6 separate regions of the Homo sapiens genome follow, and regions 2, 3, 4, 5 and 6 are each reported to be linked to region 1. Evidence: microRNA targets listed by miRTarBase, many of them from high-throughput screens and not tested one by one. Region 1 holds a microRNA gene; each other region holds the end of a gene's coding sequence.
The links. The annotated mature microRNA hsa-miR-122-5p reads UGGAGUGUGACAAUGGUGUUUG and lies in region 1 at 2,001-2,022, opposite strand. An mRNA with a match to its seed (bases 2 to 7 or 8) in the 3' UTR can be bound and repressed. Matches are read on the target gene's strand: a 7mer-m8 pairs with bases 2 to 8, a 7mer-A1 pairs with bases 2 to 7 and ends in A, and an 8mer does both.

Region 1 (5,076 bases):
TCGGCTTCAATTGTATCGCACAGAATTCCCACGTGCTGTGGGAGGGACCCAGGGAAAGGTAATTGAATCATGGGGGTCAGTCTTTCCCCTGCTATTCTCATGATAGTGAATAAGTCTCACGAGATCTGATGGGTTTATCAGGGGTTTCCACTTTGGCTTTTTCCTCATTTTCTATTGCTGATGCCACGTAAGAAGTGCCTTTCATCTCCCGCCATGATTCTGAGGTCTCCCTAGCCATGTGGAACTGTAAGTCCAATTAAACCTCTTTTTCTTCCCAGTCTCGGGTATGTCTTTGTCAGCAGCATGAAAACACAGACTAATACAGTGTGCATGAGCGTGATCTGTATAACAGTAGAGCCCTCTATTAATGCCTGTTCAATTAGAGCCTTTGCCAAAAAAATACACACAAAAAGGAATGTCAGTGTCTCAATTATTTCAGGGAGTCTGATTCTCTTCTTGACAGTAGATGGTGCCAGGAGGGAAGAAATGAGAGGTGGTAAGAGATGCAGGGCAGGCAGGGGTGCTCTTCTTCTTCTTTGGACAGAGGCATCTCATGACCTTGAAGCCTTTGTAGTGTATCATAAATGTGTGGGCTGCATTCAGGTGAGGCTTTCCAGCAAGGGACTCAGAATTATTTCGCAAAGTTTTGCTCATTTGGCTCCCGTTTGGAACAATTACAATGGTCCCAAAATATAATGCGAGCCAGTGAATGCCCATCTCTGGAAATAACATCAGACACATTTAATTTAAAAGTGTCTTCAATGCCTAGGACAGTGTCAGGCACACGGTAGTCTCTACACATATTTATTTCATAAGTGAATGGTTGAATGGTTGAATTTGTTTCTGATGGTTGATCTAACCCTGTCTATTTGATTAAACATGTCCTACTTCATTTAACCAAGCCTGGGGAGGGAAGCTTTAGTCTGGCACAAACGAAACCTACTCCTGACTTTAGACACCTCTCAGAGACAGAATGGGTTCCAAACCAGAGCACCTGGCTGGGCCAACTGTCCTAGAAACTGCATGGGTCCCAGATTTGCTATGGCAGCTCACACATGCTTCATAAACAATTTTCTGATGGTAATTCACTGATGCAAGAGGAAGAAAGGCCTAGTGTACGAATTCAGTAATCAGCCTAGTAATTGATTGAAATCAGTAGAAATCAAACATATTCTAGAATTTCTGAAACGTCAGTGAAACCATGTGTAAGTTTATTAGAAAGTTGGATTTTTTAACGACGAAAAGAGAAGGACCCACACACCTTAATTTTGTACCTATAAGCTTGCGGTCTGTCTGCATAACATAGATTTAGCCCAGTCTTAGCCTTCTGCGTCTAACACTTTCCTAACTATTCATTTTAAGTCTATAAGCATGGGTTAAATGATTACCTCGTGCCTGGCCTTGTGTTGGGGGCTCTGAGGAACTCTGCAATCTTTTTATTTTCATTTTTTGAGACAGGATCTTGCTCTGTCACACAGGCTGGAGTGCAGTGGTACCATCACAGCTCACTACAGCCTCAACCTCGTGGGCTCAATTGATCCTCCCACCTCAGCCTCTCAAGTAGCTGAGATTACAGGCACATGCCACCATGCCTGGCTAATTTTTGTAGTTTTTGTAGAGACACGGTTTCACCATGCTGCCCAGGCTGGACTTGAACTCCTGAGCTCAAGTGATCCGCCTGCCTTGGCCTCCCAAAGTGCTGGGATTTCAGGCGTGAGCCACCGTGCCTGGTCTGCAATCTTTTTATTGACTTGGGAAAACAAGAAAATTAATCACCAGCTAAGGTATGTAACAACAGCATGTGAGAGGCAGGGTTCAGCTAACCATATTGGTTATGAGTGCAAAAGAGCCAGACTTTATTCAGTAAGTACACAAGATTGAGAAGACTGATATCAGATGAACCTTCTTGCTCAAAGCAAACGATGCCAAGACATTTATCGAGGGAAGGATTGCCTAGCAGTAGCTATTTAGTGTGATAATGGCGTTTGATAGTTTAGACACAAACACCATTGTCACACTCCACAGCTCTGCTAAGGAAACTCTGTAGCCACGAAGGTGTTAACTTCACCTCCACATTCCACCATTGTCACTGATAATAGGGGAACCTTGTCAGCTCCACATATTGTGACCTAAGCAGAGAAAAGAAGCATCACGGGTACAAGCATCTTGAGCAATGGGAAGAGCTGAACACTCTCAATGAAAGGCTTCTGTGTTCTGGAACAGTAGAGTAGTAGAGGGGTCCACTGCCTGTGTTCCACTGCCACCCAGCAAACCCCTTCTGCAAAAACTTCCTGTGAAAATGGACAGGAACTCTGTTTGCAACAATTTTCTAAAATGGCTGAGAGAGAAAGAATCTCTAGAGGGAATAGATTTCTGGAAATAAATACTTATTGGAAGACTACATTATAAATGAGAATAATCTGGCCGAATGAATGGATACTCTCCAACTCTCACCTCTTCACCTACTTCCCAATCCATCATCAGTAAATGTGATCAATTCTGCAGTCTAGGAAAATTAAAATTATTTTATATGGGGATACAGCAGTTAGATGTGTTGTGATCTACTCTCCGTGGCATCTATTGGATATAAAGGCATCTGGTCTTGCTCAAATGTTCAATCTTCTTGACCACAGTCATTTTCCACCATGGCGGTGGGTGGGAGATGAGGGGAGAGAAGAAAGAGAGGAAGATGGAGAGAGAGGAAACGAGTCCATTTTTAGTTCATGATACTCATTTTCTAGCAAAAAGGGAGCTCCAAATAAATCCCTACAGGATTTACTTGGCTTTCCTGTTAAAGATGGTTTATAATTGTTATGTGAACTCCTGCCCACCATGGAGAATGAGAGGAAATAAAGCATTTTACCTACTCCTTCTTTTCCTGCAAATGCTGAAAAGGGAAAGGGTTGGGAGCCAGTTATTTTTTCCCCAGGATAACTGAGTTGTTAACATCTGACCAGAGTCTTGCTTTAGCCCTAAAACCGGCCCATCTTTAACAGCTGTAAATGAACCCTTCCGTATTTTTCAGAAAAAAAAAAAAAAAATTGCGCCTTATTCTCATGTAGATCCTGAAATCACCCTCTTCAAGCTGGACTTGCAGTGATTATCCCCCTGCGAAAGCTGAAAGTCGTTCTGCTCCCATGGGTTGGAGTGTTGAAGTTGCCTCTTTTTTTCTTTCCCTTTTTCACTTTGTGGATTCGTTATCTTCCCCTAAGTGACTGATTTCCTTTGGTTCCTGTCTGTGGCCCTGGCTTTCTTTCATGAAATGTGGTCATTTGCAAGGCAGCAGGCCGTGCCAGTGCTACACATACTCTCTTAGGTGGGACTCGCCTCCTGGGCAGTTTTCCATGACTCAGAGAGAATGACTACGAACCCTAGAACTGCTCTAGGTGGCCCCAGTCACTGCCACAAACCCCTAGCACTCTGGGTGTGGCCAGCAGTGGACACAGGCATGTGGTGGCCCATCTTGTCCTTCCCTTTCCCTACAGCTCCTCCTAACACAGTAGCCAGGCTTGTCCTGCTTAGTCTTTGCTGAGGGACCTAGAACAGAAATCGCCACCTCCTGGTCATACCAGGGCTATCGCTGACCATCCACAAGAGGCTCTAGAAGTCTCTTAGCTCTGCTGGGAAGAAACAGTGAGAGGTGAACAATTCACTGATTAAAAGGGTCCCCGGAGGATGCGCTTGGAGCGCTCTATCCTGGGCAAGGGCTTGGACCCATTTCACTTCTCAGGGCTCCATAGCAGTATCTGAGCATCCTCCACTTCTCCATGGGGGCTCTGTTGGCTTTTGGCTTTGAATAATCTGCAAAATACAGAAAAGGGAAGGAACAGATGGAAGATGAAAAGAGATGAGGAAGTTAATGCATTACAGGTAAATCTTACCAACTCCCCACCCCCCAAATCAACCTTTACAGGTAAATCTTACCAACTCCCCCCACCCCAAATCAACCTCAATTTCTATGGCCCAGAAATCTATCTCCAGGAAAATGTCAAAAATTTGTAGAAAGATTTACCTATAAGGTTGCTCATAGTGGCATTGTTTATAAGGGTAAACATTGGAAACAACCTAAATGTCCAGCTATAGGAGAAGAGTAATATATTTATGATAGACCATAATTATTTAAATTGATTCTGTAGAAAAGTCTGGTAGACTTGGAAATTCAAGATATGTTATTGAATTAAAAAACAGTTTATAAAACAATATACACAGTATGAGTCCCTTTCTGTGAAAAAATGCATACATGCCTGAGGCCAAAACATCAAATGTTAACCATGGTTATCTTTCAGTAGAGAAATTATGGTTTGTTTTCATTTTCTCCTTTTGTGTGCATTTGTTAATTTATGATTCATATGGCACTTTTTTATTGAGAAAAATGAGGATTTAAAAACTTTTAGGCAATTTTCTTTCTGGACTCTCAATACAAATTCCTTCTTGCAAAATACTCTTCTGAAATTGGGAAGGTTGGAACCCATCCTGCTCATATACAACTTGTCACAAGCATGAAAAGTTAGTGCTGTGCTGAGTGGCAGGCCTCAGGCTAATTTTTTAGCAAATTATTAGTGAAATACTTTATTATGCAGTACAATAATTTTATGGTATTATTGCATCAATCACTAAACACATATTGAGTGCCAATCATTTTCTGTCTTGTGAGCAATTTTTAAACATTGCTAAAATGGCCAACATCTTTTATTACTACTTTGTTTCTGCAGAGGTGGTTAAACTGTCAATTTACAAAGCAGTTTAAACAAACAAGCAGAAGGTTTTCTTTTTTTAAAAAAAAAAAGTCATCCAATAATATATCGCTAGTAAAATAAATTAAAAGTGGTTAGTGTCAGGATCCACTTTTGAATATTTTAAACATTCACAAAATAATTTCTCATTCTGCAGATTTTTAATGTTCTAGTATTTTCAAACTTAACAACTGAACTTAAATAGTACGAGCTAATAACAAATAGAAACATTATACACTGGTTGGGAAGTATTAACACGTTATTTCCTTTGAAAAAATAATGCTTAAGGCAAAGATGTTTGATATTAAGCAGGGTGACTTGTCCAAATGCCAGCACAATTTTC
Region 2 (5,076 bases), not on the chromosome of region 1:
CAGCCAAAAGGAAATGATATGTTAATTCTCTTTCTTAAGTACTCTTTTTAGACTAGGAAAAGCCAGTAAGACTTCATTATAATCTTCTCATCGTAGTCATTCTTTATGTCCAATTCTGGGAAAGGTTAAACCCATTACAGAGAACAGTAAGTATTGATAGTATTACATCTTGCTGTAATAGGTGAACCACTGGCAAAGGTTGTGAATCTTTTTTGTCAGACCACGTTTTTTTGATGGCATTAATTGCTGCAATGAAATCTGACCTTCAGGTTGAAAAACCTTCTCCTAAGAGATATACATATAGAACACTTTTTTAACTTGACAATTAATCCAAGTAAAATTTTGCATACACCTATCATTGCACACGTGAAAGATGAAGACCAAAATGTTCACATGCTCCTGCCTAGAATTTTTGCTTGTCAGAAGGTGGTAAAAAAAAATAGAGCCATTGGGTTCAGGCTTTTAATTCTCAATATTTAACTAGCATGGTGCTCAGTCACTCATTTATCAAGATTAAGTCACCCCTTATACTGGGGGGACTGAGGTAAAGGCACACATAAGTTTGGCAGCGCAGTCTCTTTTCAGAAATTGTACCTTGAAGGGCATGTGCCAGCACTGGTCCAATTGGGTCCCTAAAACAAATAAGTATGAGGGGGATGAACTCATATTTTAAGCAGACAGCAAAGCATGTGATGATATCAAGGCAAGTAACTTGATAGAACAGAATCAAGGGTTATAGCAGTCATGTGGGTAAAAGCAACCATGGCCTCCAAGAACTTCATGGTTCCAAGCAGTCTTGTCTTCCTGTAAACTATAAATCACCTACACAGTGGGGAGCATGACGAAAAGCTGTTCTTTATATGAGGGGCCAGTACATCTTATTATGTGATCTGCTTTAAGAGCTCCCAATGGGTGGGAAGGACACACAGCGCTGCAAAGAAAACTCTTTGCAAACTCTACCACTAACAGTTTAAGGTGCCCTAAAAAGAACTGGCTTATAAAGATATTAGGAGCCTTAAATCATCCACCAGCAGCGTGTAGATCCCAGTAATAAAGGAGAAAGACAGCTTTCTTTCTGTAACTCACCCCATTGGGCCACACTGCTGAAAGACGAGCTGTCTTCTCATTGAGACTAGGAAGATGACTCTTGAGTTTAGATTTCTAAAACCATGTAAATAAGCTAAAGACCTAGAACCACTGAAATATGTTTTTCTTCTCTAGGACTAGCAATAAAAACTTTCACAGGTAACAACCAGCACCATATTGAAGAGACAGACGGAAGGTCACAAATCTCCATGAAGGATGCAAGACCAAAACTATAGGTATTGTATGCCCAATGTCTATAGAATGCATCACCTGGTCTTGCCAAAGTACCTCTAGAGCCAAAAACACTCTTTGTCAGATTGGGAAAAACAGGAAATAAAGCACATGGCTTTTCTTTGCCTGTGTTACCATCATTTTAAATTCAAGTAATCTTCATATTGAATTCAGGCAGGATGGATAAGGGCTACATAAACCAAATACCCAGGGAAAAGTCGATTAAGGCAAGTATCTGAATAATGTCACCACAGCCCAAAAGAAGTCATTCAGATGATTTTCAAAATCATGTAATGTGTAATGGTTTGCCCTCAGATAAGTAGAACCTTAAAAGAGAGGTGCTCTATATGTTAGCAGATTTAAATAATGTTGAAGTGTGCATTTACTTACCACATTTCGATTTTAAATTTTAAAGGAAATTATAGCATTCTAGGGAAAAGAAAGGAAATGTATTTTGATGTGTTAGGTCTTTTTCTCCCCCGTTGAATATTTTTTTTCCAAAATGGCATTTTTCAAAATGTTACCTCTAGATCAAATCTATATTATTTGGTAGCCCTGCAAGATTCATTAAATGCTTCCACATGAAAAGCTTTATTATCAAGTGAAAAGACCTCCTAACACTTGATTCCCAAACTCCTCTTCCTTCATAAACTGAAAATTGATTCCACATTAATTCAGTTTAGTCTGCCATTTGGCTAATTAATCCTGTTTCACCAATAAATAAAAACTCAGTTGATCTCATTTAGCTTCTATGAATAAACATTAGTTTTTTCTTTAATGCCTTCTTTTTTTTAATGCCTTCTTTTTTTAACACACAGCTCAGACCTACTCACTCAGCAGATCGTTTCCTTCTTGTTTCAACATCATCCAAAGTGGATCCTTAAGCAGGCTAGAGCTGGACTTAGAAACCTTCAGAATATAAAACTTATACCACTGGTAAGGCAGCCTCAACAAAAATCATGAAATGAGAGTCACAGTAAAACAAAGTTTGTTCAAAAAGCACAAAAATACAGCAACAGAAAGCAAAAATCATGTTTATGTCATCTCAATTCTTTCTTTTCAGTAATCAGTATTGCTCTATAACATAAGGCAATTAACTACATCTAGCTTCCTCTGATGGCCATATAATTTCTCATTTTTACTTAATAATTCTTTCATATGCCCATCCTCTCTTTTTACTATCTTCTGAGCCTCCCTTTTTGTATTTCAGTTCAACCCTTAAGTCATATGCAGCATACCTCACTCATCAAATCAATCTGACACCCATGAGAGCTCATCCACATAAATATCCTGATTCACACATTTTGCCAAAGTCACCCATGTATTCCACAGTTGTCCACAACACCACAAACTTCAGACATTTGAAATAGCCTTTAAAAATCTGCAAAGAAATCACTTTCTTACTTCCTCATTCCTGCTGTCTCATACCAATTCCCAGCTCCTGTCCTCTTTTTAAGAATGACCCCCTGATCCTGGTAACACAATCATGGAAGTTACAACAACTCTTAGAGCACAGGTTGGAAAAACCTCCAGGCAGAGTTGCAAAATGTAAGGTATTTCTGAGGCTGCATTTCCCATCCCTTTTCTGAACCGTCACCATAATGAGGCGGTCTGTCACTGTGAACACCCAGTGTGTGTCTTGCAAAGTGAGCACCTTGCTCATCATGCTGCTCTTAGAGAAGAGTTTGTGCTGCATGAGGCAAGAGTTCACAGTTGCTGAATGACATCTAGACCACTGTGAGTGGGAGGTGAGTTCTGACGATGACTACAGTCCCCATTAAATCAGTGTATTGAATCTCTCTTTCCATTTTATTTTTTTTTGGCTTTGGGCTTAAGGACTGTTGCTACCATGAGGGAAGTGCTCGTTGCTTGGCCTACAGCAAGTGATACAGCCTGCGAGGCACAGTCCCCAAAAGTCTAGCTGCAATTCTATTGGTGGTTTTCCCCAAACAGCAATAACAAGATGTTACCTGGAAGCACACCAGAGCCAATCATGACTCAGGCCTGTCTAGATGTTTAGATGTCTGGAAATATATTTAAAATGTCTCATGCCTTGCCTCTTGCTGCTGGTGTGAGAACCAGCAGACTTCAAGAGCACAGATAACCAGTATGATGGCAAAATCACAAAATATAAAACTTATATCAGTAACTAATTTGACTTCATTTTAAAAAAGAGCCTGTGACCCTGGCTAATATCTGGCACCAACACTGTGGTTTAAATTCACATTGGTCTTACAATGATTTACATAATTTTTTTTTATTAGAAAGTTTATCCTAATGACTTAATTACCATTTTTGAAAACAGGAATAATTTCAAACATAACATTTTTTACAATAAGGAAAGCCCAACATCCTCAAACTTCAAAATATTCAAACTAAAAATTCCATGTTTTAGTGTTTAGCCAAATTACAAGAAGGATAATTTAGCAAGAAAATGGATAAGCACCTTTGAGAATTAGATGTAAGCCTTATTATTGATTAGTGCTTAGTTCTTTTTCACAAAGTAGATTAGCAATTGATCCTACTGTGTGTAGGACCACCTAGTGTCCAAAGAATAACATCATATATTTGTGTAAAAGAAATAATTTGTAGACTGGGTCATTAGAAATATTTTTCTATCGAAGTAGAAGTTCTTGGCCATTACAGATTAATTAGCCTTCAGCTCTTCAGAAGGATAGGTGTGGCTGGTTGTGGTTTCTTATACATCTTACATGGCTTTTCTTCTAAATAGAAGACACATAGAGAACAAAAACACTTACTGGCTGTTGGTTTGTGAAATAAACTTTTCTTGCCAGGCAAATAAATTGCACTGTGAATTTTTATAAATTAACTTTTTTCATATTATAAAATGCCAAGGCAGACTCTCAAGATATTCACAACCAGAATTAACTCTGTACAGCAAGCGCATCTTCCTCTACCAAGGACAGTTCCAGAGTGTTTTCATTCGTGCTGGTTTTCATCCTGAAGTTGAAAGAACCATAGAGTTTTGCAGACTCTTTGGAAGAGGCAAATCTGTTTCGACGATAGAGCTCCCCCTTCCACATGGACATCATTAACAAGCAGGACAGGATGACGCCCCCCAGCGTGAGGAGGCAGAGCCCCGCAATCACACAGCGGTCCAGGTGAGCCCCCAGCCTCGCACTCTCCTTCTCCAGGCGCTCCATCTCCCGGGCTGCCACAGTGTTGGGGTCCACAGTCACTTCCCGTGGGACGATGTAAGAGATGATCACGAGCAGGATCCCAGTGACCAAGAACAAGATGGCGCTGATGAAACCATAGTCTATAGACTTCCCTGAAGACGTGGCTTCTGAACTTGTATCATCCTCCTCTTCAGATATCAAAGATATGGCAGCCTCTTGGGACCACTCATTTGGATTTTCCCAGCCAAGCTCCCCAGGGTGATTATGCCCTTTTGCTGATGGCGAGCTCCGGTTCCGCTGCTCCAAGTTGATGTTTTTGTCCACATAGGTAAAAGAAGTTTCTAATTCCTGGCTGCAGCAGTTACAGACTTTCCGTTCCGCTGTTATTTGGTTGTTCCCTGAGTGGAGAAGTCCTGGTGGAAAGGCATCTGGCTGAAGAGTACTGTTTTGCAGAGAGGAGGAGGGGGATGCTGGAGAAGAACTAAGTTTAGACCCTTCCATCTCGGTTGCTCTTGGGGTGGATGCACACTGTTTCTGACAGCAGAGAGCAGCTCTTGTGGCTGCTGTATCTGCCTGGTCACCAGGCAGCCCTCTTGAACTCCAGTCCCTGGCATCACAG
Region 3 (5,076 bases), not on the chromosome of region 1:
TGAATTCTTTATTTGGGTGTCTCACAGACATCTCAAACTTAGTATGTCTACCCATCCTGTCCCTCATTCCAGTTCAGGGTGCAGCACCACAATCCACCCAACTGCTCAAGCCAGAAGTTAGGTGTCAAATGTGGCTCTTCCATTCTCTCACCTGTCTCATCCCATATATCAGTAAAGTCCTGTTGCTCCTACCTCTAAAATATGTCTTGAATCCAGGTGGGCTGGTGCAGAAGCCTTTTATTCAGTCTCCTTCCTTCAAATGTTGTCCCGTACAATACACTTTCCACACAGTTAAAAGAATGACTCATCCATGGTTGGCTTGGTATTAATTGAAAGACCTGGTGTAAACAGTAAATATATTTGTACTATATTCTGGACTCTCAGCATTTTTATAAATGGCTAAAAATAAGACAGTTCTTTGTAGCAAATAGAGGAATTAGACCCGAATGTCCTTCAAGATGTTTTGGAGCATAATAGTAAGGCTTTATATAGTTACCACTTCCCGAACCCAAAATTAAAGTACATATTCCAGGAGGCAGTAGGGTACTTAGGGTTCAAATAATTATCATTTTATTAAACACCTTTTATGTTTGCTATGTACTTCATCTTACTTAATTCTAACATAGGTGGGCCAAGATAAACAGGACATTCTTCAAACATAATTTCTGGATTTGTTTAACATTTAATGGGGGTGGGACAAAACATTTTTAAATAATTTTTTTTGAGGCAGAGTCTCATTCTGTCACCCAGGCTGGAGTGCAATGGCGCCATTTTGGCTCACTGTAACCTCCACCTCCCAGGTTCAAGCAATTCTCCAGCTTCAGCCTCCCGAGCAGCTGGGATTACTGGCGCGCACCATCATGCCTGGCTAATTTTTATATTTTTAGTAGAGACGGGGTTTTACCATGTTGGCCAGGTTGGTCTCGAACTCCTGACCTCCTGTGATCCACTCGTCTCAGCCTCCCAAAGTGCTGAGATTACAGGCGTAAGCCACCATGCCCAGCCTAAAAAACAATTATTATTTTATTTTTTTAGATAAGTGTTTACTGATATTTTTATTTTGGAGCTCCAAAGGAAAACAAGTCACATCTATTATTTTGCATTTTTCATGTAAGAATAAAACATTTTCCTTTAACAGATACCAACTTATTTTTTCTTTTTACTCTTTTTCTAAATTCATCCAATAAACATTATGCCGTTGTGAAAACAAAAGTTTATTTATATATATATATATATATTTTTATTATACTTTAAGTTCTAGGGTACATGTGCACAACGTGCAGGTTTGTTACATATGTATACATGTGCCATGTTGGTGTGCTGCACCCATTAACTCGTCATTTACATTAGGTATATCTCCTAATGCTATCCCTCCCCCCCACCCCACAACAGGCCCCAGTGTGTGATGTTCCCCTTCCTATGTCCATGTGTTCTCATTGTTCAATTCCCACCTATGAGTGAGAACATGCGGTGTTTGGTTTTTTATCCTTGCGATAGTTTGCTGAGAATGACGGTTTTTAAAAAATTTAGATAGAGACAGGGTCTTGCTATGTTGGCCAGGGTAGTCTCTAACTCCTGGCCTCAAGCAATCATCCCACCTTGGCTGTCCAAAGTGCTGGAAATAAAGGCGTGAGCCACTATGCCCAGCCACAAATTATTTTTTATTAATACAAACTGTATATAGCTGGCCGGGTGGCTCACGCCTGTAATCCCAGCATTTTGGGAGGCTGAGGCGGGTGGATCACGAAGTCCGGAGTTTGAGACCAGCCTGGCCAACAAAGAACAATACATTTGTAGAGAAATGACAGGACAAAGGAAAGTGGTTTTAGGCTTCCAAGGACTGGAACCTTTGGGAAGGCAAACACTGTATGTGGGAGGAAACTAATTGAATAAGGTTTCTTTGCCAATTCCTCTGGTGCTGTCCCTGGTAGATAAGACTCTAGAATTGTCTCCAGCAAAGGAGAAGTTATATCCTGCCTTTGGGCAGAAAGGCAGGGGGATGGCGAGAGCTTTCCTCAGTTTGCTGCTTCTTAACTGCCTTTAGCTCAAAAATATTTTTATGTCAAAGAGGCATTTTAGGATGATATGTTCTGATTTCCTTCATAGCAAAAGATGAGTGGATTTCTATTGGTGGCCGTTGGTGTTTTTTAAAGACGTGCATGCACACATATACATCAGCTGTCAAAACCATCCCCTTTTTCCCATTGTTCTTTCCTCTTAGGTTTTTCCCTAGCAAGTGTCTGAATCTACATCTTGACAGGTATAAATTTAGATAATAAGTCACCTGTTCCCAATAAATACCATTACAGCATGCCTTACCTGTGGCTGAATTTCAAGTGACTATAGCTTCACATGCTAGGTCTGTTAGTAAACAGTGTAACTTTCCACTCAAGGCCATTGTCTTGTGCATTGGGAATATGCTCAGAGAACATTTCCCCGATTATTCAGTAATGTTTCAAGTCCCTGTTAAGGTTAATATCCTGGGTAGCAACTAAATTGGCTTGTTCCTCAATCTACTCTGTTCATTCCAACTCTCCAAATTAATCACTATTAATCCCCACTATACAGTGAGTCATCAATAGCTCAGTTTAACCTGCCAGAGGCCTTTTATTGTGGCAGAGCAGTGATTTCAACAATTTGTGTTTGATTCCCAAACTTTTTTTCTTTCTACTACTGGCAAATACCATAAAAGGATAATAGATAATTCTATGCTTTTGCCTAATTTAAGGGAAAGATGTAATTCAAAGTTTTGAACAACTGTATTTTGAACATTTTACTAGAAGTGACCATTAAATCTAAGTAGTTATTACTAAAACAAGCTCAGTAAAACCATTAACCCATGGATTCAGTTATATAGCACTAATTATAATGGTGTATCTTTCACTGTAACCATTTTAAATTTGTACATTTTGTCAACTACATTGCAACAGGGCTGTTGATTGGGATGGTAATGGAAAGTAAAAACACTAAACCCGATGTGCAAAAGGAACAAGTTTTTTTTCCCCCGGAAATGGGGTCTCGCTTTGTTGAAAAGAATGATGTTGACAGATAATGTACTTGTGATAGTTATATTTATTAAGCAAAAGAAAATTATGTTTTGTTTTTTAAGGACCAATCTGTTTCTGATAATGTTGCATGTTTTAAATAAATGACAATAAGATGTAAAGCATCACATTTTCTATTAAAATTGAACAAGCTATTCAAATTGCTACATTATATCACACCTAATTGTTCCAGTAGTATTTTTTTTTTTTTTGAGACTGAGTCTCATTCTGTTGCCCAGGCTGAAATGCAGTGATGTGATCTCAGCTCACTGCAATCTCCACCTCCTGGGTTCAAGCGATTCTCATGCCTCAGCCTCCCAAGTAGCTGGGACTACAGGTGTGCGTCACCATACCTGGCTAATTTTTCTATTTTTAGTAGAGACCAGGTTTTGCCATGTTGGCCAGGCTGGTCTCAAACTCCAGGCCTCAAGCGACTTGCCTGCCTCAGCCTCCCAAAGTGCCGGGATTACAGGCATGAGCCATCGCACCCGTCCTCCAGTACCATTTTAAACAAATACATATTGTGGACTACGCACCAATAGAAATTAAGGTGGCAAAACCGTATCATTAGTAAAGTAAGTGAAAGCCTTAGTCTTTTTGTTTATTCCTTATTCCCCAAAGGAGTTACTAAGTGAAGGAATTTTCCAGCTGCCTTTATTTTTTTGAGACGGAGTCTTGTTCTGTTGCCCAGGCTGGAGTGCAGTGGCACGATCTTGGCTCACCACAACCTCCTCCTCCTGGGTTCCAGCGATTCTCCTGCCTCAGCCTCCAGAGTAGCTGGGACTACAGGCGCCCACCAACATGCCCGGCTAATTTGTGTATTTACAGTAGAGATGGGGTTTCATTATGTTGGCCAGGATGGTCTTGAACTCCTGACCTCAAGATCAGCCTGCCTCGGCCTCCCACAGTGCTGGGATTACATGCGTGAGCCACTGCGCCCGGCCTTCCAGCTGCATTTCTGAGGTCACAAGTATGGCCTTAAATGATTGCCCTCAAGAACACAGCTTTTGAAGGTAATCATATGCAAGTAAATTACAATCAAATGGAACTGTATGATTATTTTATTATTTTAATGCTAAACTGAACAGTGAACTGAAATCAGAGGAGAAAGAAAATCAAGCTAGTGGCTCACTCTCAATAGTGTCCTCTAATTTTATTGATGCTTCAGTTTTCATAAAGTGCAATAAACAAAATAAATAAATGAAAAAAGCTTTGAAGATTTATATACAGTTTTGAGGTTAAGATAAATTACTGACTATATTCCTTTCAGCCTTTTAACTCTGTGAAAGCTGTAACGTACATTAAAAGCACATTGAACTAGGTTAAATAATGATCTTTCCCCCTTAGATCAATCTAGTATTAAGGAGTATATAATTATGCAAGTTCATTCTATAACACAAGGCTAGACTAAAAGGAAAATTTTTGTGCTACAGACTAAATCCAGATACAGTCAGGTGCTGAGCAGTATTCCTGGCTTCAAAATAGGAGGTATCTGTTTCATCATCTGGCTGGGGGATGAAAGGCATAGTCTGATGCTGCAGATTTTCCCAGTCCACATCACTGAAGAGAGGATGACGTTTTAGCTCTTAGGAAAAATATAAAACAAAACAGTATGATATCATTACCTAAGTAAGTACTGCTTTACAGGAATTATTATAAAAAGAGAATGTCTCACATATAACTTACCTTACTTTATTATGTCAGTTTCACAGACATTTGTTTAATGTCTGTTAGGCCACATACTTCACAAAGGTCTACATGGGCCATTTTGAATATCACTTGGCATATGACAGGTGCCTGGTTTGTATTTGTTTAATGACAGAATGAATGATTTGCCTTAACTTAGAAGCCTATCTTTCTCACAGCTTTTTTTTTGAGACGAGGTCTCGCTCCGTTGCCCAGGCTGAAGTGCAGTGGCGCGATCTCTGCTCACTGCAACCGCCGCCTCCCGGGTTCAAGCGATTCTCCTACCTCAGCCTCCCGAGTAGCTGGGATTACAGGTGTGTGCCACCACACCAGGCTAATTTTGTAT
Region 4 (5,076 bases), not on the chromosome of region 1:
TTTGTATTTTTTGTAGAGACCAGGTTTGCCATGTTGCCCAGGCTGGTCTGAAACTCCTGGGCTCAAGTGATTGAACCATCTTGGCCTCCCAAAGTGCTGGTATTACAGGCCACCACACCTGGCCTTAAATCTAATTTTTAAACCACCTGAAAAGATTAGTTCAAGCCATCCCTTATTAGGTTGTTCTAAGTTTTAAAAAGAGTCCTTATCCCAGTGTTAAGATTTGGATAGAGGATAGAGCACAGGAAAAAACAATTAGCTTGGTTGTTTGCTGCCATTTCCCCTCTCCCTCTTTTACTCACACACGTTCTCTATTTCTGCACAGAGTTTGAAAGATATCAACAACATGATAAGGCAAGGTGAGCAGAGAACCAAGAAGCGAGTAATAGCCATCGATAGTGATGCAGAATCCCCTGCCAAACGCGTCTGTCAAGAAAATGATGACGTTTTACTGAAACGACTACAGGATGTTGTCAGTGAAAGAGCAAATCATTAATGTTGTTCTTGTTTCTATGATAAAAGCACTTTCAGATTGTTCTGCAGAAAGTTGGAGCTCTGTCCTTCAAACCTTTTAGCCCTATAGATGATAAATATCACTGGGTTATAAGAAAAAATTGCACAAAAATTATGTGCTTTTTAAAATATTTATCCAAAATGTAGTTGACAGAGATGTATTTTGAGTTGGATTGGAAAGGAATATTTTAAGTGCCTTTTAAAAATACTAATAGTCCGGCCAGGCGCTGTGGCTCACGCCTGTAATCCCAGGACTTTGGGAGGCCAAGGCGGGCAGATCACCGGAGGTCAGGAGTTCGAGACCAGCCTGACCAACATGGAGAAACCCCATCTCTACTAAAAATACAAAATTAGCCGGGTGTGGTGGCGCATGCCTGTAATCCCAGCTACTTGGGAGGCTGAGGCAGAATTGCTTGAACCCAGGAAGCGGAGGTTGTGGTGAGCCAAGGTTGCGCCACTGCACTCCAGCCTGGGCAACAAGAGTAAAACTCCATCTCAAAAAATATATATATATATATAAATAGGGAATTTTTTTTAATGTTTGCTCCTTGAGTTTTCAAGATGAAATAAGGAGAAACCCCATAACTTTTTAGCTCTCTTTTAAAAATAAATGTCTCCTTCTGTGTTCTGTAATATGAGGATAAATAATCTACTTTTGATAGCATGCTTTGAGATATTTGTATTCTTAATTTAATATTGAAGGAAGGGGTTGGTTCCCATAGTACCTGGCCAGAGGGTTATATACCATCCTGTCTCTGGCCCACTGTGGTAATTCCACATCCAGGTACCACCGCCATTCAGAGTTGTCTCACCCCTTCTCGTGCCTTTTCTCTCCTTGAGCTTTATAAACAGATTTGTACCTGAGCCCCAGTGCTACACTCATCCTTGCTTTCCAGCCCTAAGCCATCTCAGCCTGATGTCACAACCCAATAAATGGGGCACTTTCTTCTTTTGTAAACTATTATCATTTTGGTTTCTGTGACATTAACTTAATTATATATGATCGTATTAACTCATGTAGTTCTCAAAATAGGCAGCTGCTTCTGAAGCCAGTAAAATAAAATTCAGTTAGTTATTAAAAACTAAATTCCTATTAGTAAGGTAACACCATGATTATGTGTGATATACTGTTTTTGAGATCATAGTTATCAGTCATTCTCAATATCTAATTGAGTCCCTAAGAATATTTTAAACCTTTTAAAAATCACATAAATATCATCTCATGCCTCATAATTCTAATATATTTAATACATCAGTAAAATAGCTGCTTATTACTTCCCACACTTTGTTCTCAGTATTGTTAGTGCATCATGAGTTTCCTGCTAGTGTTTGACCACTGGGTACTCCTGAAGATGTTTTTTAGTACTAGGGATGCTTTTCAGTATTAGGGATGCTTTTTTCAGTACTAGGGATGTACTAGGGAGTACTGAGTACTCCTGAAGATGTTTTTCAGTACTAGGGATGCTTTTTTCAGTGTTAGGGATGCTTTTCAGTACTAGGGATGCTTTTTTCAGTGCTAGGGATGCTTTTCAGTACTAGGGATGCTTTCCAAAATATCACCTCTTTAACGTTTACTTTTTCTAGTGTGTGTCTGGAATCCAAAGGACATGAATAAGCCACTCATAATTAATTTTGAGAAGTTTTATCAAATGTTTATGTTTCTAACTGCAAACCTTAATTTTGGAAAGGCACAATGTTTAACTCACCTATGTTTAACCATGGCTAATTTAAAATAGTCTAAGATTTGGCCGTCACTAATTAGTATTCTCAAGAATTTCATTTTTCAATTTTAAGAAGAAAAGGGATTTTGGTCACATTTTGCTTGTAAATGAAAATTACATCCTCATTCTTTGTGTAGTATCTACACATTGTTATAAGCCAAAAAACAAAGTCTGTCTGGAATCTTTGTACATATTTGTATGTTGCTATAATTGTTATTTTTATCTTCATTATTGTGCAAAATATAAATGAGCATTTGTACATTGACTGTATAAGAAACCATGGGCCAGGTCCTGTGGCTCATGCCTATAATCCCAACACTTTGGGAGGCTGAGGCAGGAGGATTGCTTCAGTCCAGGAGTTCAAGACTAACCTGGGCAACATAGCCCTCATCTCTACAAAAAATAAAAAAATTAGTTGGGTGTGATGGCATGTGCCTGTAGTCCCAGCTACTCAGGAGACTGACATGAGAGGATCACTTGAGACTGGGAGATTCTGAGGCTGCAGTGAGCTGTGATTGCACCACTACACTCCATCCTAGGTGAGAGGGCAAGACCCTTTCTCAGAAAAGGAAAAAAAGAAATTCTGGACATGTTTTTATCAGTTTTCAGGACTTGGTATCAATGTACATAGAATGGCTAATAAAAATTGGAATTGAGATTATTGAAAAAAAACTCTTTTCTGTATGACTGGAAGCAGTTGCACAGCCATCTGAAATCTGTCTGTTTTAATATCTATGTCTCTAAAATTCCTTAGAATAACTTAAAAGTTAATGTTCCTGTGGTTTCCAGGGTCTAGGGGGAAAATGAAAAATAACTGCTTAATGGATACAGAGTTTTTTGGGGGGGGAGTGATGAAACTATTTTGGAACTTGATAGAGGTGGTGTAGTTGCATAACATTGTGAATTTACTAAATGCCACTGTATTGGACATTTAAAAATGGTTAATTTTGTGTTATGTAGATTTCACCTTAAATTTTTTTTTAAGTCTTGATTTCACCTTAAATTTTTTTTTAAGTCTTAGATACTATATTAGTCCATTTTCATACTGCTGATAAAGAAATATCCAACCGAGACTGGGAAGAAAAAGAGGTTTAATGGACTTACAGTTCCACGTGGCTGGGAGGCCTCACAACCATGGCAAAAGGCAAGGAGGAGCAAGTCATATCTTACATGGATGGTGGCAGGCAAAGAGAGCTTGTGCAGGGAAACTCCTGTTTTTTGTTTGTTTGTTTGTTTATTTGTTTGTTTTTGAGACAGAGTCTTGCACTGTCACCAGGCTGGAGTGCAGTGGTGGGATCTTGGCTCACTGCAACCTCTGCCTCCCGGGTTCAAGTGATTCTCCTGCCTCAGCCTCCCAGGTAGCTGGGACTACAGGCGTGTGCCACCACGCCCAGCTAATTTTTGTATTTTTGTAGAGATGGAGTTTCACCATGTTGGCCAGGATGGTCTCGATCTCTTGACCTCATGATCCACCTGCCTCAGCTTCCTAAAGTGCTGGGATTACAGGCATGAGCCACCATGCCCAGCGGAAACTCCCGTTTTTAAAAGAATCAGATCTCATGAGACACATTCACTATCAGGAGAAGAGCCCAGGAAAGACCTGACCCGATAATTCAATCACCTCCCACTGGGTTTCTCCCACAACATATGGGAATTGTGGGAGTTACAATTCACAATGAGATTTGGGTGGGGACACAGCCAAACCATATCATTCTGCCCCTGGCCCCTCCCAAATCTCACATCCTCAGATTTCAAAACCAATCATGCCTTCCTAACAGTCCCCTAAAGTCTTATTTCAGCATTAACTCAAACCTCCACAGTTCAACATCTCATCTGAGATAAGGCAAGTCACTTCCATCTATGAGCCTGTAAAATCAAAAGCAAGTAAGTTACTTCCTAGCTACAACAGGGGCATGGGCACTGGGTAAATACAGCCATTTCAAATGAGAAAAATTGGCCAAAACAAAGGGGCTACATGCCCCATGCAAGTCTGAAATTGAGTGGGGCAGTCAAATCTTAAAAGCTCCAAAATGACCTCTTTTGACTCCATGTTTTACATCCAGGTCATGCTAATGCAAGAGGTGGGTTCCCATGGTCTTGGGCAGCTCCACCCCTGTGGCTTTACCTCCCAGCTTCCCTCCCGGCTGCTTTCACAGGATGGTGTTGAGTGTCTGCGATTTTTCCAGGCACACAGTGCAAGCTATCAGTGGATCTATCATTCTGGGGTCTGGAGGACAGTGGCCCTCTTCTCTCAGCTCCACTAGGCAGTGCCCCAGTAGCGACTCTTTGTGGGGACTCCAACCCCACATCTCTTTTCCACACTGCCCTAGCAGAGGTTCTCCATGAGAGCCCTGTCCCTGCAACAAACTTCTGCCTGGATATCCAGGCATTTTCATGCATCCTCTGAAATCTAGGCAGAGGTTCCCAAACCTCAATTTTGACTTCTGTGCACACCATGTGAAAGCTGCCAAGGCTTGAGGCGTACATGCTCTGAAGCCATGGCCCAAGCTCTACATTGACCCCTTCAGTCACGGCTGGAGCAGCTAGGACGTAGGGCACCAAGTTCCCAGGCTGCAACCAGCAAGGGGATTCTGGGCCCAGCCCACAAAACCACTTTTTCCTCTTAAACCTCCAGGCCTGTGAATGTCGGGGGGATGTGATGAAGACCTCTGACATGCCCTGAAGACATTTTCCCCATTGTCTTGGTGATTAACATTCAGCTCCTCATTGCTTATGCAAATTTCTGCAGCCAGCTTGAATTTCTCCTCAGAAAATGGGATTTTCTTTGTTTGTTTGTTTTTTGTTTTGAGATGGAGTTTTGCTCTTGTTGCCCAGGCTGGAG
Region 5 (5,076 bases), not on the chromosome of region 1:
TTAGCTTGCTGGGGAAAATTCAGTATGACGTCATTGGTGCACTGCCATCATTATCCTGTTTACCATTCTCATGGGAGCCAATTCATGTTACTGAAACAACGTATTGGAGCAAAACAGACTGTAAGAGCAGTGGCTACATTGGCACTTTTCTCGTGTCTTCCTTACTGCAGCCTGGTATAATGGAAGGAGTGTGGATCAAGTGAACTGACCTCAGATCCTATCTTTGTCCCCTACTGGTTGTGTGACTTTGGGTAATTTACTCATCCTCTTAAACCGTATCCCCTTACCTATAAAATAAGGATCATAAGAGCCACTTTTTGAAGGCTTATGGTTGAATTAGTGAGATAATGTGTGCCTGGCATATAGGAAGTACACAGTAGGGGTTAGTTTATTTCTTACTTTCTTCTCTACCCAAGTCGCTGCTATTATTGCCTCTTTCCTTCCAGGCCATCACAGAGCCATGAACCAGCAGCACATGATGCCTTCCCAAGCCTTCCAGATGCGGCGTTCCCTGCCTCCAGATGACATCCAGGATGACTTTGATTGGGATTCAATTGTGTAGGGCTTGTTTCTGCAAGACACCAGACCCTAACGTTACCTTTCTGTGCAGTGAAGGGAAAGGTTTAAGAGAATCCAGTTGAGAAAACAAACTTGCTAATCACTTTACCAATGTTATCAAAATTACTTTTGAAGACAATCAGAAGGATTTTAGCTGGATAACTTACTGCTTTTATCTGACCCAAGCAAGTACTACATGTTTGTCTCCCTGCCAGCTGCCCTATGTAGCTCCTAACTGTTGTGTGATTTGGACGGCTTTTTGCATATTTGTGTCAGTTTGATGTTAACCACAAGTGCCAGACTGATTTTTCAGACGGAGCCTATTTTGCTGCAAGCAGTTTATATAAAGATACATATGTGTAAATATATGTACAAAAATTACTGAAAGGCTTCAGTTTTTTCTAATTGGATTATTATGTCTTGAAAGTTATTGTCAGTTTTTATTCCTTGTTAGGCTATTTTCTGCAGGATGCTTTTAACTGATGTAGGAAACTGAAAGGAAATAGATTTTTTCCAAAACCCAGTTCCCCTTATTTAATCTTTTTTAGAAATGTGGGTAATGAATTCTATCTAATAAGTCAAGGAAACCAGAATTTGACACACTCCAACAATCCGAAGGGGCATGTTGCTCCTGAGCAGCATGAAGAACTGACCAAATTGGTTTTGATGCTTGGGGGATCATAGAGTATTTATGTCTGCTTTTCTAAATCTGCATTATAATAGCTCTAAAATTTGTTGATTGGTAAGAAATTGGGCATTGCTTGGCTCTTTAAACACATCAGTGCTTCCACATTCACCTATGTATTTATTATTCAAAAGTGTCATTTTAATATTTATTGCTACCTTCTGTGAATGCTTAGCTCCTGTCGGGTTCATTAAGGAGAAATGTGTCTGAAAGCACAGAACTATTATTATTTTTTTCTTTTTTTGAGATGGAGTCTTGCCCTGTTGCCCAGGCTGGAGTGCAGTGGCACGATCTCGGCTCACTGCAACCTCCGCCTCCCGGGTTCAAGCAATTCTCCTGCCTCAGCCTCCCGAGTAGCTGGGAGTGCAGGTGCACACCGCCATGCCTGGCTGATTTTTTGTATTTTAGTAGAGATGGGGTTTCACCATGTTGCCTGGGCTGGTTGCAAACTCTTGAGCTCAGGCAGTCTGCCTGCCTCAGCCTCCTAGAGTGCTGGGATTACAGACATGAGCCACTGCGCCTGGCCCAGCGTTACTTTTCTTGATAAGAATTTACAGATAAGACACTCAGAGAGACATTGTGTCATTCTCTATCATCACTCCTTTTACCATGTGAATAGATTTCTCTGTCTTGGCATTCTTGCTGATTCAGACTTATTAGTTAAATCGGATTTTTCTGGAATTTGAATCAGATTTCATTTGGGCAACAACAGCAGGGCAGGGTTTCTAAAGCAGGTTTCCCCACTCATCTAGGTTGTCTTGAAAGGAGGATAGAGCCACTTACAGTTTTATTTGCTTCAGTGTTTAATGTAGATATTATGTGGCCTGCTGTTTCTGTTGTCTTGTATGTCTGTGTATGCATGACATTTGGTCCCTTTCTTTGAAATGCAGCCCCTCTTACGGGTTTTTTAGTGGTGGTGGTTTGTTTTGTTTCATATCATATCACAGTTTGCATGGACTGATTATCTTAGTTTTATGATAAAACTAGAAGAAATGAGGGTTTTTTTTTAATGAATAGATTTTGAATTGATTCTTTAGACCCCCCAAAAAGTGTCAGTTCTAATGGGGAAATATATTCCATCAAGTCAAAGAGTAATAACTGCTCACTAGTTGCTTTTTAGCATCTCTGGTCTTATCAGCCATGCTAAATCACTTTAATTAGCCTTAGTGATTCTATGGTTGAGTAATCTCTACTTGAACTAAACAAACATCTTTTGTTTCTGTGTGTGTGTGCTGTGTGTGAGAGTGTGCGCGCGCGTGTGTGTGTGTGTGTTTTAATGGAGTGTTGCCTTGAATGAATCACTGGGAAGCCAGCCATGGTAAGGGCTGGTGAGGTTGGGGAGAAAGGAAGAGCTTTATGTTTCTCTGTTGTTTGGACCCTACTTGGCATGAAAAAGGAAGCTCAGTTCCAGCCCCTTGGATCAACGAAAATCAGAGGATTCTGGAAAGGCAGCCAACTTGCGCCTCTTAGAAGGATCAGAGGCAAGATGAGATGGCAGCCTGCAGAGTAAATGCTTGAAAAAAGAGGGGTGATTTTCAATGGTTTGCTTAAGTCACTGTTTTCTAGACACCAAAATAGCTGTTTTGAAACTGTTTTAATTGCTTGGGTAGCAATGTGCACTTTAAACAATTTGGATATTGGAATGCAGTCTCATACTGAGTGATTTGAGTAGAACCACTGATGATGATTTTATAAATTGTGTGAAGCGAATTTCCCATTTGGCAATCATTTACTGATTTGCAGTGATGAATATTTTTATGAGAATTTAAACTTAGCAAGAATGGCCATGGAGGCAAAGCCTTCACCCAGACCCATCCCACTCTCCTGTGATCCAGGTGGTCCAGGAGCCCAGGACAGGCCTTTTCTGTGGGCCCTGGCCAGACAGGGTTACCTGGTGAGGTGCAGAGAGTCCCTCTAGTGGCCATTTTGTATGGTAGTTGCTAATGCAGAACAAGTTCTGTCTTGGGCTTAAATTGACTGAAGACTTTAGGGGGAAAGAATAGTAAATGCATGTAAACAAATGGGGACACTCTGTTCAGGAGAATAATCCGACTGGCATTTGTGGCAGTTTTTGAAATGTAAATGTATTCATGTGTGTTCTTGTAAATACGTGTCGCTCAGATGTCCTTTGAAGTGGGAGGGAATCAATCCGGGGATAATTTCAAATGGAATAGAGTATTTTGATATTGTTCATTCAGAGGGTGATGTGTACATATCTATATTGTATATATGTGATGAAAATGCATTGGCTTTTTGTGCAGATACAACCTGCTCTCTGTACTGCTGTTGGACAGTCAGTGTTTTAATGTTTCTACAGTTTTGCTATTGCACGATTTCATATTTTGCCTCTATGATGAACGGCAACCATTATTTGTAACTGTTTAGTGCTGTAAAGAAATATTCCAAGTGTCATTAGGATTGTTGCTGCCAGAACTGATATGCATGAATGGCACTTAAAATAAATATATTATGTTAACTCTATTTACAACACTGATTGGTCTCCGTTGTTTGCTGTAATTGAAGAAGTGAGAATGGAGCTAGTCCAGGTGCAGAAACCCCACAGCCAGGACCCCAGAGTCCTTGGGGTCACTGAGATTGTGTCCTTTGCATTACTACCTGAGGACAGTAATTGCTGCCATTTAGTGAGCATCTTATTAGCTCCATGAACTTGGGGAAGTCACTGGATTTCCCTGGGCCTCATTTTCCTTATTTGCAGCGCCAGTACAATGAGGATAGTATCTGCCTCCTAGAGTTGTAGTGGGATTTACATAAATCAGTACATTTAAACATTTAGGACAGCACATGGGACATAAAGCATACTGGTACTCAGTATGTGCCAGGTGCTGTGCTAAGTAGATATTGTGGTCCTCCTTTTACCGACATGGGAACAGCTCAGATAGAGGTATAGAAACTTGTCTAGATTCTTCAGTTGGCAGGTGATAGAGCAGAGGTTTGAATCCAGGTCATTTGATTCCAGGCATCATGTTTTTTGCACAATCCTCTCATACTTACTGAGGGAATTCCCCTCTCCCTACCCCCTGCCCTTGCCCCATCTTGTCCCCAGCACTGCCTTCCCAGAGCTATTTCCAAAAGGTGAAAGTGGGGCTTTACATTTGCTGAGCACATATTCTGTGTTAAGCCCTCTCATGAGAAATCCAGAGATGAGGAAGCCGCAGTTCCTGCCTTTAGAGGGTGCAGACTTGCCCAGGACAGGTAGCAAATGCCAGCCCAGGGAGGCTATTCTGAAGGTATGCTCTGGTAAGGCAAGATTCTGGTGATGCGGAGTTAGGTCATACTGAGGATTGGGGCCGTGGTTTAGGAGAGGCTCCAGGTATGGGCTACCAAGTTGAGTCTTCAAAGGGTCCCAGACAGATGGGAGGAGGTATTGCCATTTATACCATTACCTTGGGCAAGGCATGGGAGCTACCTTAGCATGGGGGTTGTGGGTTGAGGCAAGAGAAGTGCAGGGCTGCTGGTCAAGAGCTGAGCGTAGCAATTCTGTGAGAAATGCTGTCCCCACTTCACTGATGTGGAAACAGGCCCGGAGAGGCTAAGCAACGGGCAGACCAGCCATGTGGCTGGAAGTGAGATTAACCTGGAGTCCCTCCCACTCTAGAAGGGGGACCTTTTCATCAATCCCATGATCTACCCAAAGCCTCAGGCTGCTGCTAACGTAACCCACACAATGCCACCAGAAACATCTTTGGCAGTTTTACAGATAGGGAAACAAGGCCCAGAAAAGTTAACCTGCCCAAATTCTCACAGCTAATAGAGGAGCTGGAATAATTCAGTCCAGACCTAACTCCAGAGTTCATTTCCTTTTACCTCACTGC
Region 6 (5,076 bases), not on the chromosome of region 1:
AACTGAAAACTAGGTCTTCTGTCCCTGCACTCACTATGTTCTATCTCCTTACTGGGCCAGAAATTCTTATGCAAATTAATAGGGAGGTAAGACTAGCCAGGAACTCAAAGCCCAAACTTTCCAAGGCCTGTGATCCTGGAACAGCTCTTCCATGTGTCCATGAGAGAGACTGGTGCTAGGAACCAGTAAGTATAGAGGCAAATTTTTTGTGCTCCTTTCTGAGCAGCACACTTTAAAAATTCCATACAGTCTGTATCTGACATAAATTAGGGTATTGTAGCCAAGTTGTCAATTTCACCAATCCTCAAGCCACATGTCTATTCTGTGCAGGTCTATGGAACCTAATGCACAGTCTCCTGAGAGCATAAATGAAGTATCGGGCAATTGGCTATGGCCAAAGGAGACTTGTCTTTTTCCCCTGAGAGATTTGCTCTCACTGAGGCAGAAGAGACTCTTCTAGATGCACCGTTTAGACCCCAACACTTTTCCTGCTCACCGAATACACAGTGACTGTATCCTCTCAGAACCAAATAATAATGACAATAATCATTGTATGAGGTAGCTTTTAAAATGTGCTTTTTTTTCTCTTTTAACTCTCAACTCCCTTAGAAGCTGGGGCTGTTCATCTTCTCAACTTTACAAAGAGGGAACCCAGTAAACAGGATTGCCTCTATATAACAACAACAACAAAAACCTAAAGCTTGAACAGAAAAGGAACTAGTCTCTTACTCATTTAGGTACAATGAAATCCTGGATTAGGGCTTTCACAACAGGCATGAATTCGTTAAGCGCCCAGCTGAGCACTAAATCAGACTTGAGTGGAAGAACTAGGAAAGCCTTGGTGAGATCTTTCGTAATTGCTTTGTCATTAATAAGCAGGATTTTGTTACCCACATTCAATGAGCCCACGATAATAATTTAATTCCAGGCAAGTCTCTCAGAAATAGGTCTTTCAACAAGGAAAAGACCCAAATCCTAACCTAGCACTGGCCACTCAATTCAAAATCATGCAGGATTTTTTAAGTACCAGGGCTTTATGGAGAAATTACAATAGTGGTAAGAAAAATGTCAGCCTTCTCAACACGGCAACATGTATTGAATGAATCACCATCATGTATGTGATGATTACAAAGGCGATTTAGAAAGATGTGGTCAACAGTATTCATTAGCCCTTCACAAGAGCAGGTTTAACAGTTTGGTTACTTCTTCATCTTCTTACGTAAGGCTACTGGCTACTTGGCTATTGAGGCCAAAGTCTCAACAGGGGTTTCACAAGACTAAACCTGTCCTCTCCCCTGCTGTTTTTTCATTTTAAGTTAATGGTGGAGTAAGCACCCACTGAACCAATATTCCAACGAATAACAACCATAAACTCTCAAAAAAATACAAAAAATACATGAGGGTAGGAGACAATAAAAACAGGCAAGTTCTGAAAAGAGATTGAAATTTTAAAGAAGGGAATGGCACAAGGTGAGTTTCCCATTGTACAGCTTTTGGGCTGAAAGAAAACTGCAGTTTTTCTGGTCTAAGAATCAGAGCAACCACAGCTGCTGGAAAATGAGGGGGGAAATCTCAGAAGAAAGAGAGCCAAAGAAAAAGCACCACAAATTCTGTGCATAAATTCTATCCATCTCTCTGGCTAAGCCCTGAACTATGTGCAGCATAGACTCCAGCTAACTGAATTGAGATTTTCAGCTGCTGCCCAAGAGAGTTTACAGTTTGAGTCCAATAAAGTTAAATGCCTGCTAACACAAGCAATATATATATATACACACACACATACACAATATATATATATTTGTGTGTGTATATATTTGTATATATATATTTGTGTGTCTATATATACACACAAATGTAATACACAAATGTTGTATATATATATTTTTGTGTATATGTATATTTATGTGTGTATATGTATATATCACAGCACTTTTCAGAGCAATATAACAGAATCTACAACATAAACATTACAATGTTCAGGACACAATCTAAATCACTCAATATATGAGGGACCTCCCCCCAAAATCTGACCATTCTGTAAAGAGGAACAATGGAGACCAATTCTAAGATTATCCAGATGTCAAATTTACCAGAAAAGAATTTTAAAGCATAATTTAAACTCATTGAACATAGTTATGTGTTCTCTACTGAGAACACATAATTTTTTTATTTATGTGTTCTCTACTGAGAACAAATAATTTTTTTATTCACTATATAGTTATGTTCAATGTTTTGTTCGGTTATGTTCATAGTTATGTTCATCTGTTATGTTCAAGGTTCATAGTTTTATTCACTACATAGTTATGTTCAATGAAAACATGCATGTAGTGAATAAAAAAATCTCAGTAGAGAAATATAAAGAATTAGGGAGAAATTCTAGAACCAAATGATAAAATGTCAAAAATTAACTCTTCAGTTGAAGACTCCCTTTGGGAAATACTCCTTAATTTATTTCCTTCGTATCTCTGTTCTTTGGTCCTTTCACCCCTGGAACTCGGTCAATTTAGAAGGAAAAGAGACTAACTTAATTTACCTTTGGATCTTCTATAAGGGCACAAATCAGATCCACAGTTACTGATGTTCCAATGACATGTGAGATGCGAGTTGCAAAATAACTCATAATCAAAATTACCTCCGCTCAGTTGGAGATTGTTTCAAATGACTTTTATTTGTACCAAAACTAAATGGAAAATTGCTTGCTGACACTGTAGGAAGTTAATTTCTTTTTTCTTTGGGAGGCTTGACTTGAGAAAAAGAATTTAGTTAAGTTTGGTGGTGAAATTTTATATACAGTATTTTCATTTGGTGAAGATATGAAGGCCAGGACTAATAGCTCTTCTGCCTAGGATCCCTAATATTTCACACTAGGCCTGATAGTCGCTCCTACAGAGATGACATTTTTCTTTTAGAATGCAGTAACACCTACCAGGCCTCTGTAGGAGGCAGGCTACATACAATAAGGAAGTGTTTTTATGAGGAGAAAAATGATGCTCAGAGACAAAGCATCAAAGTCTTATTTTCTGAAGTGATTCTAACATGGAAGAATTTGGAAAAGATAATCCCAAGACTCAGTCCATTGTGAGTCTCCCATTGGTCCCGCTTCTCACTTGGTCACCAAGTTCTGCACACTATGAGACATATACTTCTGAAACAGCCAGCTTCCCAATCCCAAAGATACCTGGTACTCTCAAAAGCAGGGCATGATAGGCTAGGGCAGAAATTGGTTCCTGGATAAAACAGGACCCTACTCACAAAAAGCGATAATAAATACATTAAGAAAGACTACCAAACAAACCTGAAATGGTTTTAGAAATGGAGGTGATAGCTTCTCTGGGAGCAAGGAGTTATGATTATTTCACTCAATTAAAACAATGTCCAAAATATGAGAATGAAAGCTCCCAAACAGTGTTCTTAGCAATTTTGTAATGTGTACCAATGAAAATTGGTTTTCAGTATTAAAATGGACCAATGTCTCTGAGTTAAGAATTAGTTACTATATCAGAAACAGGAAAAAAAACAAAGTAAATAAGCTGAAAAACTAAAAAGCTCCTCTTTTTATCACAGTTCTTCCACATAAGGCTGATCAACATATCATCCAATGATATAAAATTCTAGAAACTTTACAAAATTCCTTTTTAAAATTTATTTTTTGTTATCAAAGAGAATGTCCAGAAACATTGAGTACTAAAGAATTTGTTCATGGCATTGTTTTACAAAATTTTCTAATGGAGAGTGAATATTTTATTTTCTGATGTATTCTTCACTTATTAATGATGAGGTCAATGAACTGATGCAATTATTTAAAAAAAAAAAAACAGACAACCTTATAAAGGAAAAAACAAAAACAAAAACAAAAAAAAACCAAACGTCCATTCTCATTCTGAATCTGTTGACTGGAGTGAATTCAGTGGTCACAATACCACCATCAAATAAGAATCAACTTCCTCAGAGTAAGGAGCTGTTCCGATCTTCTCAATAGTTCACACAGGTCTCTCAGATATAGGCACCATGTTTTAAGTCTCACACAAAATGTCTGTGTCACTTAAATTACACAATATGGCAGTGTTTGTCTTATGGGGACATACTGAAAGGGGCAAAGTAGAAAACAACCTGTTTGCATGTTATATGTGAGTACATTATTGTACTGTGCATGGGTATGAGGGCATTGCAGCCCTTGTTAAAGAGGAATTCCACCAATTGAAGCCTATGTCAGTTCCCAGCTGCTCTTGGTGCTGAGAGTATCTACTCATATAACCTTATTTTGTTAGATCAGAGCCCTCTTCATCTACAGTTTGGCTGAAATGGTTTGAACTGAGTTTGGTCGAACTGAGTTTGGTCGTTTATCTCTTCCATCTGAGCTTTATTTCTCAGCCTCAGGATATGTGGGGTACTTGACCGTTTCTATCTTCTCTCGAACTTTGTAGGAGGGATATAGGCCCGTCCTTCCCAATTTCCTGTTGACACCTTTAGAATAGCCATCCCAATGATTTCCAGCCACACCAATGATATCTCCAGGTTCCATGGGAATTTCATCTGCAGTTCGGGGTTGGTGAGCATAAATGGCAATTTGATTGTGGGCATTCTGGCCCCCAAAATAGTAGATGTCATCTAAAGAATGGAAGTTTGCAGAGGCATCAGGATGTAGTGTTTGCATAATTTCATAAGCAACTCGACAGACCTTGGGAAAGAATTTAAAAGAAATTGTTAGTATATAAACACTCTCCTTCACAGCAATCTAAAAGCCCTTGGCCAAAAGGATGGGCTCTAGGAGTAAGAGGTTGAAAAGTAGTGGATTCTAGTCACAAGCTTTCAGTCCATTTGTTCTCAGAAGATGGTACAAGTCATTCTTCATCTCTGTGTCTGGATCCTTTTTCAAATAAAGAAGAAAAACTCACGAAAGATTATTACAATTAAAATCTCTCTATCTCTATATAGTACAAAAGAATTTAAGAATATGAATTAGTTAATTTTAACAAACATTTATTAAGAGCTACATACACAGTGGTCCAAGCTAGGCACTCATGATACCAAAATGAGTAAGACATAGTTTGTGCCCTTAAAGAATTTGAAGTTTAG

Region 2: the mRNA of TMEM74 is a reported target of hsa-miR-122-5p. The part of its 3' UTR that is shown has no 7-base or 8-base seed match.
Region 3: the mRNA of MASTL is a reported target of hsa-miR-122-5p. Seed matches in the 3' UTR shown: 7mer-A1 at 3,738-3,744.
Region 4: the mRNA of RBL1 is a reported target of hsa-miR-122-5p. Seed matches in the 3' UTR shown: 7mer-A1 at 974-980 and 8mer at 2,760-2,767.
Region 5: miRTarBase lists FOXJ3 as a target of hsa-miR-122-5p. Seed matches in the 3' UTR shown: 8mer at 1,158-1,165.
Region 6: miRTarBase lists FUT8 as a target of hsa-miR-122-5p. Seed matches in the 3' UTR shown: 7mer-A1 at 3,895-3,901.

What each region holds. Positions count from the first base shown.
Region 1 is chr18:58,448,034-58,453,109 of GRCh38, reverse strand. It overlaps MIR122 (microRNA 122), which reads right to left and starts at 2,036; the gene lies at 1,952-2,036. It overlaps MIR122HG (MIR122 host gene), which reads right to left. Exons shown (of 3, transcript NR_170245.1): 2 at 3,570-3,801; 3 at 1,829-2,291. It overlaps MIR3591 (microRNA 3591), which reads left to right and starts at 1,958; the gene lies at 1,958-2,030.
Region 2 is chr8:108,779,979-108,785,054 of GRCh38, forward strand. It overlaps TMEM74 (transmembrane protein 74), which reads right to left. Exons shown (of 2, transcript NM_153015.3): 2 at 1-5,076. The coding sequence ends at 4,203. Among named protein-coding and RNA genes, the nearest start is that of TMEM74, 5.1 kb to the right of the region's middle.
Region 3 is chr10:27,185,932-27,191,007 of GRCh38, reverse strand. It overlaps MASTL (microtubule associated serine/threonine kinase like), which reads right to left. Exons shown (of 12, transcript NM_001172303.3): 12 at 3,055-4,629. The coding sequence ends at 4,472. It also overlaps a transcript of ACBD5 not described here. Among named protein-coding and RNA genes, the nearest start is that of MASTL, 33 kb to the right of the region's middle.
Region 4 is chr20:36,994,179-36,999,254 of GRCh38, reverse strand. RBL1 (RB transcriptional corepressor like 1) reads left to right here. Exons shown (of 22, transcript NM_002895.5): 22 at 326-2,906. The coding sequence ends at 496. Among named protein-coding and RNA genes, the nearest start is that of SAMHD1, 45 kb to the right of the region's middle.
Region 5 is chr1:42,175,196-42,180,271 of GRCh38, reverse strand. FOXJ3 (forkhead box J3) reads left to right here. Exons shown (of 13, transcript NM_014947.5): 13 at 447-3,724. The coding sequence ends at 562. Among named protein-coding and RNA genes, the nearest start is that of GUCA2A, 13 kb to the right of the region's middle.
Region 6 is chr14:65,741,695-65,746,770 of GRCh38, reverse strand. It overlaps FUT8 (fucosyltransferase 8), which reads right to left. Exons shown (of 11, transcript NM_001371533.1): 11 at 2,650-4,678. The coding sequence ends at 4,361. Among named protein-coding and RNA genes, the nearest start is that of MIR625, 270 kb to the right of the region's middle. RefSeq lists an enhancer at 506-1,467.